3 linked regions of the Homo sapiens genome follow. The protein of the gene in region 2 purifies or fractionates together with the protein of the main gene of each other region. This does not show direct contact. Each region holds a gene or a part of one and is shown on either strand. Other genes may lie near its edges.

Evidence for each region.
Region 1: the proteins of POLR2G (region 2) and MED26 purify together in Homo sapiens (affinity purification with mass spectrometry; 8 studies listed by BioGRID and IntAct, with this or other methods). This does not show direct contact.
Region 3: the proteins of POLR2G (region 2) and GPN1 purify together in Homo sapiens (affinity purification with mass spectrometry; 6 studies listed by BioGRID and IntAct, with this or other methods). This does not show direct contact.

Annotation. Positions count from the first base shown.
Region 1 is NC_000019.10:16,618,189-16,625,212, forward strand, and holds part of MED26 (mediator of RNA polymerase II transcription subunit 26), read right to left. Parts: intron 1-7,024. UniProt on the Homo sapiens protein: Component of the Mediator complex, a coactivator involved in the regulated transcription of nearly all RNA polymerase II-dependent genes.
Region 2 is NC_000011.10:62,756,698-62,764,587, forward strand, and holds the start of POLR2G (DNA-directed RNA polymerase II subunit RPB7), read left to right. Parts: upstream 1-4,882; 5' UTR 4,883-4,951; coding exon 4,952-4,963; intron 4,964-5,097; coding exon 5,098-5,207; intron 5,208-6,169; coding exon 6,170-6,329; intron 6,330-7,890. UniProt on the Homo sapiens protein: Core component of RNA polymerase II (Pol II), a DNA-dependent RNA polymerase which synthesizes mRNA precursors and many functional non-coding RNAs using the four ribonucleoside triphosphates as substrates.
Region 3 is NC_000002.12:27,632,042-27,639,065, reverse strand, and holds part of GPN1 (GPN-loop GTPase 1), read right to left. Parts: intron 6,434-7,024; coding exon 6,396-6,433; intron 4,221-6,395; coding exon 4,142-4,220; intron 3,927-4,141; coding exon 3,832-3,926; intron 857-3,831; coding exon 811-856; intron 182-810; coding exon 35-181; intron 1-34. UniProt on the Homo sapiens protein: Small GTPase required for proper nuclear import of RNA polymerase II (RNAPII). May act at an RNAP assembly step prior to nuclear import.

The DNA.
Region 1 (7,024 bases), on a different chromosome or scaffold from region 2:
GAGAAGCTACAGGAGGGGCCACAGCTCTTGCCTGGGTCACAGCGCAGTCTCCTCATGACCACAGGAGGCCTGGTGGGGTTCAGGCCACCTGGACCGCACCACCTCCCCCAGCAATGAGCTCCATTCCAGGCAGTGACTGAAGCACCAGGAGAGACTGTCAAGACAGGGAGGAAAAAACAGCACCATTCAAGACTGTCTCCAGCCCAGGACAGGATCTGAAGCTGCAGCTGGCCAGCACCTGCACTCGGACAGCGTGACAGCGAGGTCCCCAAGGGTGACTACAGGCAAATGGAGTCTGTGGTTTAACCAGAACAAGAAGGTACTCACAACTCCACGCGGTGACCTCACACCAGCCAAACCACCCTGTTGCTACTCTGGACCTTACATTTCCCATTTTTTTCCCCAAAAACTCCCATTTTGCCTTCTGGAGCCAAGGCCCAACTATTTGGCGGTCACATCAGGAGAGGTGATGACATCAGTGCACATCCATGGACACTGGATCCACTATTCTTCTCCCGTTAACAGGACCTTGATGTCTCCTGGGAACATCCCCTCTATTGTGGGACTGTTTGGGTGGAACCCACAGCAGATTCAGGGGTAAGCCAATCAACTAATTCAATCAAACTGCTAATCCAATCAAAGCTCAGAGAAGGCATAAGGAAACGTTTGGTGGGGCTTCCAGCAAAGAGTCGGGAGTTCGGTGAGGGAAAATCCTGAAACTGCTGGGATGGAGAGGAAGACACCCTACTGTGTGAAGGCAACACTGCAAAAGAGGGAGACAGAAAAACCAGGTCCTCACCTGACCGCAGACTTGCCTTTGGGCCTGCATGACCATCAGCCCCTTTGTGTCTAAGCTCCTGCCACCAGCACAGTGCTAACCTCCCTTTAGGGCTGGACAGGCCACAGAATTAGTATAGGAAGTAAAGACAAGTGCTGTGCAGGCAACCAATTAACACGGAAGGAAACAATGTGAACCAATGACCACCCAAAAGGATAAAACTGTTCTTATTTTATATCCCTTCACATCAGTATCACGGGTCTCCCACTGACAGCACTGAAAAGCCAGCTTGCTGACTGCTTGCCTAGGCACCATGCAAGATGCACCTGGGAGGTGAATGGAGTTGGGCAGCATCTATAAAGGGTTCTGGAGGGCTGGCCTGCAGAACAGGAGAGCCGTTAGCTACCATGGTAACTACTACATCACCCTGGGGGGAACGAGGATGTGGCCACCTCTCCATGCCTAACTCAAGCTGGGCCAGGAACCTGATGACTAGAACGGGGGACATCAAAACAAGTCATCAAGGGGATAAGAACTTAAACCCAGTGTGTGCAGGGGGCTGCCCAGAGAGCCAATGTGACCAGGAGTGTGGGTGGGAAACAGAAGAGTGCACTACCGTGCTGAAGGCACAAGCAGGCAGTGGGGCTGCCAGGGCCTGGGAGTGCTGCCAGCCCACTGGGCTCTCGGTGTGGGCCATGGGTCACACCCACCTGAGTCCTCCCAGTAACTCACCCACTGCTGATGCCTGCACCACAGAACCCCCACCAGAGTCAAGGCCAGCCACAGCCAACGCCCTATAAAACCATGCTGTGCACCCAGCACACGAATACCCGAGTCTCCACAGCAGCCACGAGGCTGACCCACCACCAGGGTGTGGCCTGGACAAAGCAGCACCCTACTTTCTCACCATAGCAAATGAAAATCTGGGGGGATGTGTGTCCAGGAATGCCATGTTTTGTCACATGACCAAAAAAGGCCGAAGGATCGCTGGGGACCCAGGCTTCACAGATGAAGTGACATTTGAACAGTGTCTAGGGACCATGGACAGGCAGAAATCTAAGATCAAGCGCCGCCTTCTCTATTAGGGTGAAAAATACCTGACGAGAAAGAGAGGAAAACACACCTCACACCCCTTCTTCAGCCAGTTCCAGAGAAAGCACAGAGCATTTTAGTGACCACTGTCCTCCCAGTCTGGCATAAGAGCAGTGCACAGATGAATCCAGCATAAACAGCTGGACCCAGGCAAGAAAGGGGAGTGCCTGCGCAGCAAGTGCCCACTGGCCTCTCACATGACAAGGGAGGCAGCCAGCAGGTGGCTGTGTTCCAACCCCAGCCTCATCCCATCTAGCCTCCTTCCAGCTGTGTCCGCTGAGCCTCAGTTTCCTCACTAGTACCTGCCTCCTGTTTAATCTACACCTGCTATGAAGATTAAATGTGTTTTGAATGCAGGTGAAGTGCTGAAAACCGCTGGCACCTAGGACCTGCTCAGTAACGCTGACAGCCATTCCCAAAACTGGCCCTGTTTACAGTGAGAGCACCAAGCATTTGGGCACCCACGTGCTGTGGCAGTTCTAGACACTAAGGGAGCAACACCTGCTCTCCTACTTGGGCACTTCACAATCACATGGAAAATGTAACCAACAAGACCTGTTATCAGCAGGAATATAAGGTGTTAAAATGATGAATGGTTCCTGAGGGAGACGGTCTTGGATTAAGCCAGGTAAGGTTTCAGAAAAGGGAGGCAGTAGGGATGACAGGAGGCTCCCAACTGGAGGCAGCACAAAGGTCAAATTCCAGGTGTCACACACATACAGGTAAGGCCTGCTCTCAGAGTTACACTGATGCTGTTTTGATGACAAGACAGAACTTCATTTCGAAGCATGACTGGATTAGGAGTAGGTTCTGTCCTCGAATTTTCTTTAAAACAGTTACTCAAAGCACACCTGTTGTTATGTGAAGCTTCCAGAAGGTTTCTGATGATAAAAATGAACCCTCATACTCAAAAAGGTTTGGAGCCACTAGGCTAGAGGAATTTAAAGGGGGAAAAGTTGTAGGAACTGGGAAGGAATGGAATTCAAAATGTAACATGTGAAAACACTTCATGTTTGCAAGGGTACACCTTGGAAGACGCAATGGAGTTCAGCTTCCATGCTGGGCACCACCGATGTGGGAAGCGGAAGACTGTCGTAGTTAAGCCCTCTGACATCAGAACCACCCAGTGATGGATTCAGACCCAAGGCTTCTGGTTCCCTTGTCTGCAATACCAGACAAATCGGTGAATCTCTCCTAGCCCCTAAAATGAAGATGAAGCACCTACCCTAGAAGTAATTCAAAGAAGCAATGAGACACTCCACACAGTAGTGTCTGGCACTGTGTAAGTGCTCAGTAAACAGCGGCTGTTCGTCTTGCAGCCTCTGCTGCCCAACAGAGACTGCTGCTGGCACACAGGAGACCGAGCCTAACTCTGCATGCAGGGGAAACCTGATGAGCCCCCTGACGTTTTCCAAGATTCATTTTCCTGCAGTGGATGAACCCAGGAAACTTTGCTGCAGTCACAGTAACATCCAAAGGCCTTTAACCCCAATTGCCTGGCAATCCTTGGGATGTGAGTTCCCAGAGGGCTGCTGGTACTTCACCTGACATGACCCCTCTCCTTTTGAATAGGCTCCACAGAGAATCGCAGAACCTCCCGGTACTTGGATGGTCACAGAATCCAAAGGCCTATACACAGAATCCAAGGGCCTGGGTATGTCCACATAGCCATCTCACAGTGCCCCCAGACTGTGTTAAGTCAGCTCTGACAATAATCCACCACTTCCCTAAGCACATCACAGAACTCTCACCTTCCCCACCCTAGGCTTGCCTCCAAAAGCCACACAGAGCAAATCTAATCCAGAGGGTACAACAACACCCCAAATACTGAAAACCAGTGCCATGTAATGCTACCCCAAGGCCCTTCCCATTTTCTCAAGCCCAGACACCCCAACCATACCCACAGACACAGCTCGACATCTGCCTGTGCCCCATCCCACAGCAGAGAGGGAAAACTGTGCAATAATTTGCCGACTGTTCCTTCCAGCTCTGTTCCCCTCATGCCAGAGACAACGCAAGAAGAGCCTGCCTGCCTGACTACAGAACTTATTCTGAAAACCTGGATGATAGAATATACTTAAGAAAGCCATCTCATATTCTTAAGAATTCTCAACTGTTTTCAAATAAGGCACGGGGAGAACTGTTCCATTTGGACTTGAGACCTGCGGCACCATCAGGCCATCCCTGACTGCCGAGCCCACATGCCACGGCACCCCACCCAAGCTCGTTCATGACCATGCTCTATCTGCCCTCCTCCCTATGAGGCGCCAAGCCCCTTGGGCACAGGGGCTGAGCATCTTCAGGTCTGTACCCTCTACACCCAGCACACGAGCACTTGCTAATCAGTTAGTGACTGAAATGTAACTGCAGTGCCTCCCAAGGCATGGAATGTATTCAGAGAAGGCCTTTAAATACAGCATGTAGAATTATCGGTATGTCTTTCTTACTCAGGAAATGCTTCCCGGTTCAGGGAATCCCGATGGCAAATCCACACCCTGCTCTAAGAGTGAAAAGCGGCTGTTTTGGAAGGTGCTCCAAGCATGGGTGCTAGCGAGACCACACTGGAATGAAATGTGCTGCCTCTCCTTTACTCACTGTGCCACAAACTTGGCCACCCATTCTGACAACCAGCTCCTGGTCCCCAAAGGAACCAGGCAGACGTGGGACAGCCTACCACTAGGAATACAAAGGAAAAGCACAACGTGCAGTAACAAAGCACCCAGTTTCCAGAAGGAGATGATAGTGGGGAAGTGGCCAGGGGACCCCTCCCGCTGGACTGGAGTCACCTGGAGTCAGCCTGGTTAAACTAGAGCTCCATCTGAGAAGATGCTCGCAGACCCCAAAACCAAGAAAAGGAAAGCCAAGTGTCCTCCTTCACCTAAGAGACCTTGGCGCCCTTAAGCTACATGTCCTATCTTACACAGCTGCCCAGGGGCTGACGTGACCATGGTGCCTTTTTACATCTGTATCCAGAACAAAGCCCCTGACCACATGCTGGTCTTGGACAGTCCTCCAGGGCTCTGGGACCTCCAACCAGGACAACATATTCTGAGGACCACCCAGAAACCTCAGTGAGGAGAGACTGTAAAGTCCACTTTCTCCTGAGGGACAGAATGAGTCAAAGACAAGGACATACACCTGTGTCACAGGTGATACTTGCTACCTTTCCATTTCCCGAAGTCAGAGAACACCACGCTGCTCCTCTCCTGTGTCCTGGCCACAATATACAGAGTAAAGACAGGAGAGTCCCTGAATCTGGGCAATTGTGGATCAGGTGGCATTTACATGTTTGGGTTTAGGGTCCTCTACTATTTTGGATAGGGTCAGAATCAAGAGTCCTTCATTTTGCAATTTACACCATTCTGCTTTTCTGCAGAATAAATGGCATTTTAAGTTAATATCAAAAGTGCTGTAATGTTGAAGTAGAGAGCAAACTGGTCACACAGATTCATGAAAAGTTCCACATCGGTTGCTAGTTGCCACACCGTGGTCTGGCCCAGGTTTCTGTCTGTGACAGAGACCTTAAGATGTTCACGGGACAGGCTATGTCATATCACCACCCTGTTAGATGTAACATAGGTAAATCCAGCCCCAATCTGTAATCTCACATACACTTGTAGGGGACGTTACAGGATCCTCACACGTTTTCTTACCAGCTCAAAAATGCTGCCCCCTCGTGCCTCTTCCGGAGCCATCTCTCCAACTTTCAAGGCAGCGTGGTGGTGTTCAGAGTTGAAAGGACTCTAAGGACTGTCACTTAATGACTCTGGGTAAGTCCCTAACTTTGGTTCCACCACCTCCCATTAAGTCAGTAAGAAACAAAAGCATTTTATCCTCTGCTTGCCCCTGGAGACACCCACTGAGCAGCACCTATTACCTGATGCTGCTGGCTTCTGCACCTGCAAAAGGGGAGACTGGCTCCCCCACTCACAAGGCTGTTGGGGAGAAGCAGAACTCTCTGACAGGGTGCCACACAAACTAACAAAGCATACACCTTGGTTTAGAATTTTGTTAGTTGAGAAACTTCACACAATGTACCTTGCAAAGATATATTAAAAAAAAAAAACCCCTTCTAGAACAATTGACATTAGTCTCTGCTGTCCCTTCTAGGATCTGAACTTAGATCTGGAAGGAGCTTTATGGGGTGCATACACCAGTTCCCAATCCCACCCTGTGGACAAGAAATCTGCAGGCAAACCAAGGTAAGCAACATCCAACCTTCCAATTCTTAGGTGGGAAAATGATCTTTCTTGCTGTGTCTCTCTGCAGAGTGCCTCGGTCACCTCTCCCTTGGTCTCTGTTGCCTGAAGAGCTGTGAAAAAGAAAGCAGCTCCCAAGGACGTTTCCCGCTCAGAGCCTGGCAGCTGGAGGCACTGACACACGCGGCCAGGGCTAGTTCAAGTCCCTCTTTGCTGCGGGACCTTCTCAGGCCTCTCCCTGGTCTGAACACAGGGCATTCACCTGCAGCTAGCAAGCCCTGCCCTGTGCGGTTATTTTACTTGCCATGAGGATGCAGTACACCGTCTACTATTCGTCGGACCTTTCCTCTAAAAGCTAAGTTTGTTAATCATCACTTAACATCTGTGTTCCTCACAGTTCTACTGAGTAGCATCTCAAGCCACCTGTGATTCTTCCACTCTCCAAAGTTCTGCATTAGAATATTCCACGACTGAACTCTTGGGCATAAAGTGGTCACAAAGGCTTCTTGGTAAAATGGGGCTCAAATGTAGCTCCTCAGGCACAGGTCCAAGATGGATGCTAGGGTTCAGTCAGTTTAAGCAGCAGGTAGAAAGTGTGCCTAATGCTTCTGCTCTAGAGGGAGAAGACAAGACAGGAAACATCCCCAAGAAGCTTGCGTGCTGCACAGGAAGATAAAGCTCATACCTCCACAGAACGAGTGTCCCAGGCAGATGGGAACCGAATCACCTGCTGAGGAGACTGCTCACTATGACTGCTGTGCGAGAGTAAGACACAGTCCTTCACTTTACCCACAATGCAGTGAGAGTAAGCTGGAACAATCATGCACACACTGCGCTTCGGAGAGATTTTCAACACCCTGGGCTGAAAGGGTGCACGACGAAAAGAAAAGCTCCAACTGCTCTGAAAAACTGTTAGTAGCCTTTTCAAAAGGAGAGTAGAGGATTTACTTTATTA
Region 2 (7,890 bases):
GTGGCACGATCTTGGCTCACTGGAAGCTCCGCCTCCCGGGTTCACGCCATTCTCCTGCCTCAGCCTCCTGAGTAGCTGGGACTACAGGCGCCGGCCACCACGCCCAGCTAATTTTTTGTATTATTAGTAGAGACGGGGTTTCACTGTGTTAGCCAGGATGGTCTCGATCTCCTGACCTCATGATCCACCCGCCTCTGCCTCCCAAAGTGCTGGGATTACAGGCATGCGCCACCACACCCGGCTAATTTTGTATTTCTAGTAGAGACAAGGTTTCTCCATGTTGGTCAGGCTGGTCTCGAACTCCCAACCTCGGGTGATCCGCCCGTCTCGGCCTCCCAAAGTGTTGGGATTACAGGCGTCAGCCACCGCCCCCGGCATATATATATATATATATATATATATATATATATATATATATATATATGTATTTTTTTAAAATAGAGATGGAAAAATAACTATTTACCAAAATCAATAAATATGTCGTGAGAATAATGGCATTGTTTTACAGGGGGGTTGGGGGGAGACACTGTTTTTCTCTCCTCTCACACCACCACAACAATCAACAAAGAAGGCTACTGTGTGACCAAATGTGTTGGTTTTTTCCCCAGTCCACAAGCAAGCAGTTCCAGCTGGGTGTCCTCTTGTTTAATGCCAACACTGTCTACCTGGAGATAACCTCAGATCTCAAATGTTTAGGGTGCAGATCTCAAGACCGCCCTCCCCACCGGCCCCCCGGTACTAGTTTCTTTTCTCTCCTTTTTTCTTTTATTTCTTTTCTTTTCCTTCCTTTTCTTTTCCTTTCTCCTTCCTTCCTTCCTTCCTTCCTTCCTTCCTTCCTTCCTTCCTTTCTTTCCTTTCTTTCTATTTCTTTCTTTGTCTCTTTATTTGTCTCTCTCTGTCTCTCTCTTTCTTTTCTCTCTCTCTTTTCCCCTTTTTCTTTTCTTCTTTCTCTCTCTTGTCTCTCTCTTTCCCCTGCCTCCCTCCCTCCCTCCCTTCCTTTTTTTTTTTTTTTAAATCAAATTATTGTTTACCAGACATGGCCCCTGACTTCTGATGCTAGTCAAAAGCCCCAGGCTGTTTTACCTATGCCTCTGACTGACCAGCTGTAAATCTAGGCCCCCACAACTCTACTTGGGCTTGGTTAACTTGCTAGGGTGGCTCATAGAAATCAGGGAAACACCTACTTACCTTTACTGGTTTATTATAGAGGCTATTTGAAAGGATGCAGATGAAGAGGTGCCTAGGGTGAGGTATGGGGGAAGGGATGTGGAGCTTCCGAGCCCTCTTCCGGTGTGCCACCTTCCAGGAACCTCCAGGTGTTCAGCTATGTGGAATCTCTGAACCCAGTCCTTTTGGATTTTTGTGGATGCTTCATTATGCAAGCATGACTGCTGAAACGATTGGCCATTGGTGATCAACTCAACAGTTCAGCACCCCCTCCACTCCCCAGAAGTTGGGGGTGGGCTGAAAACCCCAACCTTCCAATCATGCCCTGCTCTTTATGGTGACCAGCCCCCATCCGGAAGCTACCTAGGGCCTGCCAGCCATCAGTTAACATTAGCATACCAAAAAAATCACTTTAGAGATTTAGGAGTTGTATGGCAGAAAATAGGGTCAAAGAAACGTATATTTCACAATATCACACTGTTTCGATAGGAGACAGCTCGATTTTCACATCTGCTTCTATTAGCTATTAGGATATATTGTTTTGATTGAAATACATGAAGAAAATTTGGTCTCACACAGACATGTAACTAGAAGAGCACTTCACCAATCCCCTGAAAGGTTCTTTTGGGGACCACAACTTCAGAATTGCTGTTCTGAGCTTTCAGGCTCTACGTGCACACACTTTGAGGAGCAGACACAACAATCCTTGTCATTGCTTTGGTGTCTTTTTTATCCAAAGTTTCAGTCTCAGGCAGTAGAGTTTACAGTAGTGAAGAATGCGACTTTCCCAGGTGTGAGGGCTCACACTTGTTATCCCAACACTTTGGGAGACAAAAGCAAGAGGATCACTTGAGGCCAGAAGTTCAAGACTAGCCTGGTCAACAGAGTAAGACCCACATCTCTGCAAAAAATAAAAAATTACCCGCGCATGGTGACCCATACCTGTAGCTGGGGAATGCAATGAGCACTCCAGCCTGGCAGCCTGGGTGACAGAATGAGACCCTTTCTCAAGAAAAAAAAAAGGTGGGGCCGGGCGCAGTGGCTCAGGCCTGTAATCCCAGCATTTTGGGAGGCTGAGGCAGATGGATTACCTAAGGTCAGAAGTTCGAGACCAGCCTGGCCAACATGGTGAAACCTGGTCTCTACTAAAAATACAAAAAAAAAAAAAATTAGCTGGGCGTGGTGGTGGGCGCCTGTAATCCCAGCTACTTGGGAGGCTGAGGCAGGAGAATCACTTGAATCTGGGAGGCGGAGGTTGCAGCGAGCCGAGATTGCACCACTAAGTTCCAGCCTAGGCGACAGAGTGAGACTCCAACTCAAAAAAAAAAAGAAAGAAAGAAAAAAGAAAAAAAAAAGGAACACAAGCTTTGGAGCAGGTCAGCTATTCATACCCAAATACCTCCCCTTAATCTTTTTCTGGCTTATGTATAAGGTAGGAATAATAATAGTATCAGTGTCAACCTAAAATAATCCGACGGGTCAGAACCTAATTTAGAGTTTTTTCAAGTGCGAAGTATGAGAATGGAACACCTGGAACCACCAACTCCAGAAGAATGGAGTCAGTGTTGTGAAGTAAGAAAGTTAAGATTTCATTTATATAGGCAAGCACACATGACTTTTTAGCAGGATTACATTTTTCACAGAAGATTGGTACATAGTTATAGCAATTTGGTTGGCTATAGACAATGTTTCTTTTTGGGAAGTATACATGTAACTTTTTTTTTCCAATTTTTTTTTATTTGGAGTTTCGCACTGTTGCCTGGGCTGGAGTGCAGTGTCAAGATCTTGCCTAACTGCAACCTCCGCCTCCCGGGTTCAAGACATTCTTCTGCCTCAGCCTCTGGAGTAGCTGGGATTACAGGCACCTGCCACCACACACGGCTAATTTTTTGTATTTTTAGTAGAGATGGGTTTTCACTATTTTGGCCAGGCTGGTCTTGAACTTCTGATCTCGTGATTTGCATGTAACTTTTTTTTTTTTTTTTTTTTTTTTTTTTTTTTTTTTTGAGAGGGAGTCAGCCGGGCGCGGTGGCTCACGCCTGTAATCCCAGCACTTTGGGAGGCCGAGGTGGGCGGATCACCTGAGGTCGGGAGTTCGAGACCAGCCTGACCAACATGGAGAAACCCCGTCTCTATTAAAAAAAAAAAAAGAGAGAGGGAGTCTTGCTCTGCATCCCAGGCTGAAGTGCAGTGGAGCGATCTCGGCTCTTTGCAATCTCAGCTTCCCGGGTTCAAGCAATTGTCCTGCCCCAGCCTCCCCAGTAGCCGAGTAGCCGGGATTACAGGCATGAGCCACCAGTGCCCGGCGCATGTAACATTTTTTAACAGAGGATGAAATAGTCATGGATTTCCTACACTTCAGCCTGGGCGACACAGCAAGACTCCGTCTCAAAAAAAAAAAAAAAAAAAAAAAGAGTTAATCTATAATCTGAGAACAGAAGTTGTAAACTATATGTGACTCGCAGTCATATCTCTCTCGAGGCTTAAAGTGTTTTTTGGGCTTCCAATAGCTCTTAAATTTTTTTTTTTTTTTGAGACTCCGTCTTGCTTTGTCGCCAGGCTGGAGTGCAGTGGCGCGATCTCAACTCACTGCACCCTCCGCCTCCCGGGTTCAAGCGATTCTCCTGCCTCAGCCTCCTGAGTAGCTGGGACTACAGACGCCTGCCACCACGCCCGGCCAATTTTTTGTATTTTTAGTAGAGACGGGGTTTCGCCATGTTAGCCAGGATGGTCTCAATCTCCTGACCTCATGATCTGCCCGCCTCGGCCTCTCAAAGTGCTGGTATTACAGGCGTAAACCACAGCGCCCGGCCTAAATTTCATTATTTTCTGTAGCTTCTTGGCCTTTTGGCTAAGGCTCGTAAACATTTTTTTTTTATTTCTACACCAATTTCTGTAGATTATTATGAGAATTAAGGGAGAGAATTATATCAAGCGCTTAGCACAGTGTCTGGCATCTAGGAAGAAAGTAGTAAGTGATAGCATTTATTTATTTATTTATTTTATTTATTGAGATGGAGTTTCGCTCTTGTTGCCCAGGCATCTAGGAAGAAAGCAGTAAGTGGTAGCATTTATCAATCTATCTATCTATCTATCTATCTATCTATTATCTATCTATCTATCTATCTATCTATCTATCTATCTATCTATCTATCTATCTGTTGAGATGGAGTTTCGCTCTTGTTGCCCAGGCTGGAGTTCAGTGGCAAGATCTCGGGCCGCCTCCCAGGTTCAAGCAATTCAGATAGTTGCCGACCGGGCGCGGTGGCTCACTCCTGTAATCCCAACACTTTGGGAGGCCGAGGTGGGTGGATCACCTGAGGTTGGGAGTTTGAGACCAGCCTGACCAACATGGAGAAACCCCATCTCTACTAAAAATACAAAATTAGTCAGGTGTGGTGGCACATGCCTTTAATCCCAGCTACTCGGGAGGATGAGGCAGGAGAATCGCTTGAACCCGGGAGGCGGAGGTTGCAGTGAGCCGAGATCGCGCCACTGCACTCCAGCCTGGGCAACAGAGGGAGACTCCGCCTCAAAAAAAAAAGTTGTCGTTTGATGGCTGGGGGGCGGGGGTGAGGGGCGGGGCTTAGTGGTTCTCGCCCACGACGGCGAGGCCCAATCAGACCCGCGGAGCTGGTGGAGTTCCGCCCTCGCGGAGGAGGTGGTGTTCCGCCCTCCTAGTCGCAGCAAGCGCGGAACTGGGGTTGCGGCGTCTAAGTGTTTCCGGTGGATTCCCAGGGACTGTCGGAGGTGTGGACTCTGCCTGCCTACCTGGTCTGGGAAGATGTTCTACCATGTGAGCAGGGCTCAGGGTGGCGGCAAGGGCTGGGTGGAAAGGAAGAGCAAGGCCAGGCGCCGGCGCGAGACTCCCCTTGTCGTCCAATAACCTGCCAGCGCCTGGCCTGGTCGCCATCCCACTTTTCTCCGCAGATCTCCCTAGAGCACGAAATCCTGCTGCACCCGCGCTACTTCGGCCCCAACTTGCTCAACACGGTGAAGCAGAAGCTCTTCACCGAGGTGGAGGGGACCTGCACAGGGAAGTGAGTGTCGAGCTCACCGCACCGCCAGATCGTTCGATGCGCACACGGGGCGCTATACCTGCAACCCCTCCCCAACTCCTACTCGTCCTGCCACCCACTCTGGGGACCCCTCTCCTCTCTCAGGCAGCCAGTTGCTTCCTGCTTTGGGTTCCCAGGGCGCCCTCTGCAATGCTGGACAATAAGACTTCCTTCTCTCAGCTGAGATGGGTCATTCATTGACTCCTCAAACATTTTAAAAACCCTTGGTGTGTGCCAGGACCCGTGTTGGGCTCAGAACAAGGTAGAATGGGAACAAGATAGAATGAGGACAGCCCCTGTGGAGCTCACAGTGTAATCATTGTTCCTGTGTCTGCTCTCCCTCTGTCATTCTGCTGGTTTTCTCTTATCCCCTGTGCCCAGGGACCACACACCATGGGCCTCTATATATCTTCTGAATGAATGACCAGAAAAAGCAGATCGAGAGTTTGGGGGAGGAAGGAAGTAGCCTGGGATTTGACCATCTCTGGGCTTTGCACAGAGGGGCCTCTCTGATATTAATGAGCTGGGACCCAGCTCAGGGCAGTGGAGTACTTGGGCCTCCAGCATCAGAAAAACCTGCAGGAACATGCAGATTCCTGAGCCTCCTTATTCCCTACAGAATCAAGACTGTCTGGGGCAGACCTGAGAATCTGCATTTTAAGAAGATGATTCTCAGGCATCCCGAAGATTGAGATCTGTTGCCTCAAGGACTCCAGCCTTCTTGGACATTTATTGTGAAATTACCAGAACAGCATTTGGTCTTACACATACTGATCTCTGTTCTGTCTTCTTTTGGTCATTAAGCTCTCTGGGAGCAGAGGTGCTATCTACTTGTCCTTTTGCTCTCCCCGACCCTACCCCCAAGAGCTCAGCGACTTTTATTGCAGATGTCTTTAGAGGCTCTTGGACACACAGTGTCTTCCTGTTTCTCATCCTCCTTGCAGGTATGGCTTTGTAATTGCTGTCACCACCATTGACAATATTGGTGCTGGTGTGATCCAGCCAGGCCGAGGCTTTGTCCTTTATCCAGTTAAGTACAAGGCCATTGTTTTCCGGCCATTTAAAGGGGAGGTCGTGGATGCTGTTGTCACTCAGGTCAACAAGGTGAGACCATACATAGGGGAGGCAGTGGGGTAGTCTCTCGGAAGATCTGGGTTGGGTTCTGGCTCCACTTCATAACTCTGTGCCTTTGGCTAAGTCACTTCACTTTTTTTTTTTTTTTTTTTTTTTGAGAGAGTTTTGCTCTGTTGCCCAGGCTGGAGTGCAGTGGTGCGATCTTGGCCACTGCCACCTCTGCCTCCTAGGTTCAAGTGATTCTCCTGCCTCGGCCTCCCAAGTAGTTGGGACTAAAGGCACGTGCCACCATGGCCGGCTATTTTTTTTTTTTTTTGAGACGGAGTCTCGCTTTGTCACCCAGGCTGGTGTGCAGTGGCGAGATCTCCACTCACTGCAAGCTCCGCCTCCCGGGTTCACACCATTCTCCTGCCTCAGCCTCCCAAGTAGCTGGGTCTACAGGTGCCCACCACCACGCCCGGCTAATTTTTTGTATTTTTAGTACAGACGGGGTTTCACTGTGTTAGCCAGGATGGTCTCGATCTCCTGACCTCGTGATCCACCCGCCTCGGCCTCCCAAAGTGCTGGGATTGCAGGCTTGAGCCACCGCGCCCGGCCTGCACTTTCAAATTATATGGTAATCTTGCCCTGCCTAACTCAGAGGGCAAGAGAGTCAGTATTAATAGTCATAACAATAAAAGCCTGTGTTGATTGAGTAGTTACTATGGGCTAGGTGATGTGCAGAGACTCACAATGACTCTAAAAGGTGGGTTTTTTTTTTTTTTTGAGACGGAGTCTAGCTCTGTTGCCAGGCTGGAGTGCAGTGGCGCAATCTCGGCTCGCTGCAACCTCCGCCTCTGGGTTCAAGCGATTCCCCTGCCTCAGCCTCCCAACTAGCTGGGACTATAGGCATGCGCCACCATGCCCAGCTAATTTTTGTATTTTTAGTAGAGATGGGGTTTCTCCATGTTGGTCAGGCTGGTCTCGAACTCCCGACCTCAGGTGATCTGCCTGGCTCAGCCACCCAAAGTGCTGGGATTATAGGCGTGAGCCACCGTGCCCGGCCAGTGGGTGCTTTTTACAGAAGCTGAAGCTTGGAAGAAATTAAGTGTACTGGCCAAGATCATGTGGCCAACAGGTGTTCAAATCTTGGACTAACACGTCCCAGGCCTAAGCTCTTTAATACTTTAAAATGAAAGCTTAGGCTGGGCGCGGTGACTCACATCTGTAATCCCAGCACTTTGGGAGGCTGAGGTGGGCAGATCACCTGAGGGTGGGAGTTCAAGACCAGCCTGGCCAATATGGTGAAACCCCATCTCTACTAAAAATACAAAAATTAGCCAGGCATTGTGGCATGTGCGTGTAGTCCCTGCTACTCGGGAGGCTGAGGCATGAGAATCACTTGAACCTGGGAGGTGGAGGTTGCAGTGAGCTGAGATTGCATCACTGCACTCCAGAGTGGAGAACAGAGTGAGATTCTGTCTCAAAGTAAATATGTAAATAAATACAAATGAAAGCTTAAAAAAAAAGAGAAAAGGGCTGGGTGCGCTGGCTCACACCTATAATCCCAGTGCTTTGGGGGGCAGAAGTGGGAAGATTGCTTGAGCCTAGG
Region 3 (7,024 bases), on a different chromosome or scaffold from region 2:
GAGGCTGTCAGTGTGAGCAGGAGAGAAAATTTACCCTGAGTGAGCTGTAAAACTCATCTAACACCAGGCTCATTGAACGAGTCAGGTTACTGACGTATGTAGTCTCTTGATTCAAGGCATCTTGGAAAGCCTCAAAATCCTGCATCCATTCCACTGCAAAGCTGTGGTCAATGATGTCAGTCTGTACCAGAGAGAAGTCAATTATGAGCAACCAGAGCCAACAAACGCAAAATTTATTCTTTTAATTAAGTGTTGACAGCAAAGAACATATCATCCATATATTTTCTTTCTCTGCTTCTATTTCCCCTCCATTGCAACAAGCCACAAAGAACCACAATCATTGTGTAGTCAGTGTAATTAAATGAAGATGTGTATTCTCTTGGTTGACCCTCCACTATCCACTGCCAAGTACCAGGACCAGAATGGACACCAGCACATTCTAGGCTCTGAAGTCAAAAGGTCTCTTGCATCCTAGCCATCAACCAACAGAGAAGTTTAGAATTTTTTAATTGCCACTTCCAGTAGACTAGTTGTCCCTCTCGTAATTACACAATCTTGACTCTGAGGGATAATCTACATACTGTGGTTGAAGTGCTACTCTACCTAGCCTAAAATAATTTTAGACAAGAGTTGGTAATAATTGCTCATTCAATTTGATTGATTCATTTTCTCGAAGTGCCTATGAATTTGTTTCAGTAAAGCCTGAATCTGGTCTCCAGCATCTGAAATAATCTTTCTCACCCACCTAAACCTTCTAACCACAAGGTTCTGATGAAAAATGGTGAATCACAACAGGAAGAATACACTTACTTTATTCATGACCACAATGAAAGGCAGCTTGGTTTTGTATAAGATGCTGAAAACCAAACATTGAGAAGTTATTAGTAAAAGCACATAAGCTCTTGCTCATCCAGTGTCAGCATGTCGGGACTAAGTAAGAGAACAGAAATGAGTTCAGAATCTAAAAAGTAGTCATCCATTTTTACATAACATCATATAGTCTCTGCCAACAGGAAAACAACTACCACCCAGAAGCAACACACACACTCTCACTCTTGTTTGAAGTAATAATGCCTTAATATTGAACTTGTTTTTGTTTTGTTTTTTAACCAAATTGGTATTTTTCAGAGAAGGAAATGAACATTTACTGAATACCTATTACAGGTTGAGAATTTCCTATCTAAAATACTTGGGACCAGAAGTGTTTTTTATTTCAGATTTTGGAATATTTGTAAATACTTATTGGTTGAGCATCCCAAATCTGAAAATCCAAAATCCTCCAATAACCATTTCCTCTGAGTGTCATGTCAGTGTCTAGAATGTCTCACATTTTGGAGCATTTCAGATTTCAAATTTTTGGATAAGGGATGCTCAATCTGTATAGTCTAGGCACTGTGCTAATAAGCACTTTCATAAGTATTATCTCCTTTATTCTTTACAAATAACATGTAAATATATACAATTTTTATTTGTCAATTATACCTCAATAAGGCTGGGAAAAGAATATTAAAATTTTTTTCAATCTGTAAAGTAACATCTTAAAAATGTTTCTACCCCTACCTTTATTGAGGTATAGTTGACAAATAAAAATTATATATATTTAAGGTGTACAAAGGGATATTTTGATACACAGTTGACCCTTAAACAACATAGGTTTGAACTGCAAGGTTTACTCATATGCACCTTTTCTTCCACCTCTGCCACCCAGAGACAGCAAAACCCAACCCCTACTCTTAGACTACTCAAAGTGAAGACGATTAGGATGAAGAGTTTTATGACGATCTACTTCACTTAATGAACAGTTAATATATCTTCCCCTTATTTTCTCTAGCTTTATTATATGAATACAGCATATAATACATATAATATATATGTAATGTGTGTTAATCTACTGTTTATGTTACCAGCAAGGTTTCCAATCAACAGTAGGCCTTTAGTAATTAAGTTTGGGGGGAGTCAAAGTTTTATATTTTGTAGAGATGGGGTTTCACCATGGTGCCCCGGCTGGTCTCTGCAGGGGTTGGCGCCTCTAACCCCCAAATTGTTCAAGGATCAACTGTATGTTTCATCATGAAATGATTACCAGCTGGGGGTGTGACTCATGCCTGTAATCTGAGCACTTTGGGAGGCCACGCTGGGAGGACTGCCTGAGCCCACGAGTTCAAAACCAGCCTGGGCAGCATGGCGAGACCCCACCTCTAAAAATAAATTAATTAATTTTTTTAAAAAGAAATGATTAACACTATCAGGCAAATCAAATAATTTTCTTTTAAACAATTAATATGAAAATGGGCCAGGCACAGTGGCTCATGCCTGTATTCCCAGCACTTTGGGAGGCCAAGGCGGGCAGATCACTTGAGGTCAGGAGTTTGAGACCAGCCTGGCCAACAAGGTGAAACCCCGACTCTACTAAAAATACAAAATTAGCCAAGTGTGGTGACTACTCAGGAAGCTGAGGCAGGAGAATCACCTGAACCCAGTAGGCGGAAATTGCAGTACGGTGAGATTGTGCCACTGTACTCCAGCCTGGGTGACAGAGCAAGACTCCGTCTCGAAAAAATATAAATAAATAAATAAATAAATAATTAATATGAAAATGAAATAATGCTGTCAATCTTCAGATTTCTATTTGGATCACAATTTCTTGCATCCACCAAAAAGGGACATCCCTTGTCATATCAGAAAAGACAAATGTTGGTGATGGCATTTGTGTACCCTCAAAATTAAATTCTCTCAGCTTTAATAACTGTCAGCCTTGCTCCTCAGTCTTAATGCACTAATCTAGTGAGGCATGCCCTTCCTCTGCTAATGGTGCCACATTTGGGGCAAACCAGTGCATTTTATTTTTTTGAGACAGGGTCTCACTCTGTTGCCCAGCCTGGAGTACAGTGACATCATCACAGCTCACTCCAACCTTGGCCTCCCAGGCTCAAGCAATCCTTCCACCTCTGCCTCCCAGGTAGCGGGGATTACAGGCACACACCACCATCCCTGGCTAATTTTTTGTATATTTTGTAGAGATGGGGTTTCACCATGGTGCCCAGGCTGGTCTCAAACTCCTGGGCTCAGGCGATCCTCCCACCACAGCCTCCCCAAGTGCTGGGATTATAGGCATGAGCCACCATGCCTGGCCACCTGTGCATTTTACAATTATGGATAAATCTTCTTATTCATGGTATCTCCTCATGTTACAATTTCACTCTACCAGCATCATTTAGGCCAGAGGACTCTATTCTTCTCTCTCTCTCTCGTTGCCCCAGGCTCTTGTTGCCCCAAGCCGGAGTGCAGTGGCACAATCATGGCTCACTACAGCCTCAACCACCTGAGCTCAAGCAATCCTCCCACGTCAGCCTCCCAAGTAGCTGGGACTACAAGGGCGTGCCACCACGCTGGCTAATTTTAAAACATTTTTTGTAGAGACAGAGTCTTGCTATGTTCCCCAGCCTGGTTTCAAACTCCCAAGCTCAAACGATCCTCCCACCTTGGCCTCCCAAGTGTAGGGATGACAGACCCAGCCCAGAGGACTTTATCTTTAAACTTGGATTTTATCCAACTGGGAACAACTATCAGACAGTTCATATTCATACATCACCTTTTTGTAACAACAAGGGAGGAAGATCAGAGGGTATTGAGAGAGAATGCCAACAGCACATGTGCCTCTTTTCTCCTCTGACCTTCCCCAGCTCACAGCCACTCAACTGAACAGCAAATCTGAATGAGCACAAATCCAGGGGTAAGCAACCAGATTCAAAAAAAAAAAAAAAAGAGGAAGAAGAAGAGAAAAAGGCCTTATACCTTGATGGAACACTTTCCCCACCAACAATCAATTACCTGCAGGCATAGAGCATGTTGGACATGAAGGTCACTGGGTTGGTACTTCTCGATGTGTCCATTACATAGATGACAACTGTTGGAAATGAGGATGCCTAAAGCCACAAAAAAATCAAAGCCTTGGTCAGAGGGCTCACGATCTGTCCTCAAACTCTTTTTCCACCATCCTTAACAAGGGAAAACCACTTTAGGCAGGGTGTGCAGAGCTTCTACAACTTCCTCCCATATAAAGTCCAAGGCAATTAAAAATAAATGCTCATCCAGTCTAGCCCCTCTAGCTACTCTCAGTAGCAAGTCCTAGAATACTCACAAGGGCTTCAGTGATAATTGTCCCAGAAGCTGACCAGGTGAATACCTCAATCTGTCCAGGTGTGTCAATCAACACATATCTATGTCAAGAAAGATCATTAAAGAAGTGTTACATTTGTGTTATGCTGAAGGATATTCCATCATATAAGACAATAAACATCTGGTTATCCAAGACTGGAGTAACCTCTGCACACTGCCAAATCTAACTTCCTCCTACTGGCCCTAAACTGCACATGATGATCCCCTAGACTTTGTTCAATGACCAATATTCACGCCAATGGGCAGGAACAGCAGACCATGAGTTGCTGCAAATGATCACAGGGGAAACTTTTATAGAAACACAATGCATTTAAAATGAAAGACACAAAACCAGAATGTAAATCTCTTGGGAAACATCTGGTTGCTTAGGGCGGGGGTGAGTGTGGAACAGAGGAAGAAGAATGGGAGGAATGGGAAAGTGCTAGCTGAAGAATATCAGGTTACTTCTTGAGATGATGAAAATATTCTAAAATTGACTGTGGTGATAGTTGTACAATTCTGTGAATATACTAAAAGCCACTGAATTGTATACCTTAAATGGGTGAATTGTATGGTATGTGAATTATCTCAATAAAGCTGTTTTTATGAACTATATCAACTTTTTTGTGAATTAATTTGATATAATTATGAATTATATCAGAATTTTTTTAATTGGCAAAGAATTCTAATAGACATTTCTCTAAATATATACATACCAATGGCCAATAAGTACATTAAAAAGATGTTCAATATCATTAGTTATTAAGAAAATAAAAGTAAAAACCACAATGAGATACCACTCTATATCCACTAGAATGGCTATAATCAAAAACAAGAAGAATAACAAAAGTTGGCAAGGTTATGGAGGAACTGGTTGTGGAGAAATCATATTGCCAATGGGAATGGAAAATGGGGTAGTCACTAGGGGCTAAAGGGAACAGAAAATAAGGAGTGATTGGTAATGAGTATGGGGTTTCTTTTCAGGATGACAAAAATATTCTGAAGATAGTAATTATCAACACACGACTCTGTGGACAGACTAAAACAACCATACACTTTAAACGAGTGAACTTTATGGTATATGAATTATATCTTAATAAAGCTGTCATTAAAAAAAAAAAAATACCTCCAGGCCAGGCTCAGTGGCTCACACCTATAGTTCCAGCACTTTGGGAGGTTAAGCCGGGCAGATCACTTGAGGTTAGGAGTTTGAGACCAGTCTGGCCAACATGGTGAAACCCCATCTCTACTAAAAATACAAAAATTAGTCAGGCATGGTAGCAGGCCACCTGTAATCCCAGCTACTCAGGAGGCTGAGGCAGGAGAATCGCTTGAACCCGGGATGCAAAGATTGCAGTGAGCCAAGATCACACCACTGCACTCCAGCCTAGGCAATAGAGCGAGACTCCATCCCAAAAATACAAAAATACAAAAATTAGCCAGGTGTGGTGGCTCACACCTGTAGTCCCAGCTACTTGGGAGGCTGAGGTGGGAGGATCACCTGAGCCAGGGAGGTGGAAGTTACAGTGAGCTGAGATCACTACACTGTACTCCAGCCTGGGCGACAGAGCAAGACCCTGTCTCAAAACAAAACAAAAGCTACCTCTAGTACCCCATTTTTGTAAAAGCACTTTTATCCATTCATCCTTCTATCTGTGTATATAGAAATGTGGAATGCTAGTCGCTGAATGATGATGTTACTTCTAGTGGGAATCGGGGTGATGGTTTCATCTTATAAATATCATGCATGGTTTGAATTTTTATAAAACAATAAATTATCTTTTTTAAAAAAAGTAAACCTTGAACAACAGCTAACTGGGTAATGGCCATAAGAACAAATATTTCCTATTCTGACACTCTGTAAATTAAAAAATTTTCTCTGAACCATGTAGACTATATTCATTTAAATAAGAATTAGAAAGGTATTTCAGATACTTTAATGACAACAAGCATGGTTTCCCAAGAGAAGGCAGGTGGACAACTGAATTGGGACAAAGTCTCAAAAGAGCTCCTAAGAAGCCATGTAAATTGGGGATCAAAGTAATTGAGGATGAAATGATATTAAATTTAGCTCTATATTCTAAAGCATCTTAATGATTTGCCAATTTTTTTTTCACTCCTAATGGTTTCATCTCAATCTATATTCTTTCAGAGGCTGATGGTATCCCAGATCCTCCATGAAGCCTAGAAATATGTCAGCTACAGAGTAATAAATGGGTGTTACTGACATCACTTACTTGGACATGTTCTGGGCCTTCTCAATAAATTTCATCACCTAAAAGAAAAAGATGTCAATGACAACAAATTCCGATTTCAACACAAAATCACAGAGCCCTCTCCAGGGTGGCATACCTCACAGGCACTATCACCTACTGAATCCCTCAATCACCTACTGAACATTTGCAATCTTAGGACAACAAAGAATAAACAGGCTGAACTAAAGCAACACAGCCACATCAGCAGCACTCCAATACCATCTTGGGGCACAATCCAAGGATCTGAGAAGCTGAAGACTTTGATCTGTCAATGTCAAGTTGTTATCTCTTGTCAAAATGTTAACAGCCTGTCTCATGGCCTAACATCAGAGTATAAAAACCAGTGATTATAAAACACTCTTATGGAAGTAGGTGACAAAGAAAACCTAAAGAATGACAAATATTTATCACAAGTAAAATGCCCCATCATCTTTCCATTCCATGACTGCTAGTCCATCCCACTCCCAAATACCCCCATCCCAGCTTCGGGGTAATACCACAGGCAAAGAACAGGTCAAGAAAATAACCCAGGTCTTTTGGATTTTTATTAGCTGTCACAAATATTAAATTTGAAGTGTCTGACCATACTGATCACCTTCTCATAGTCTACT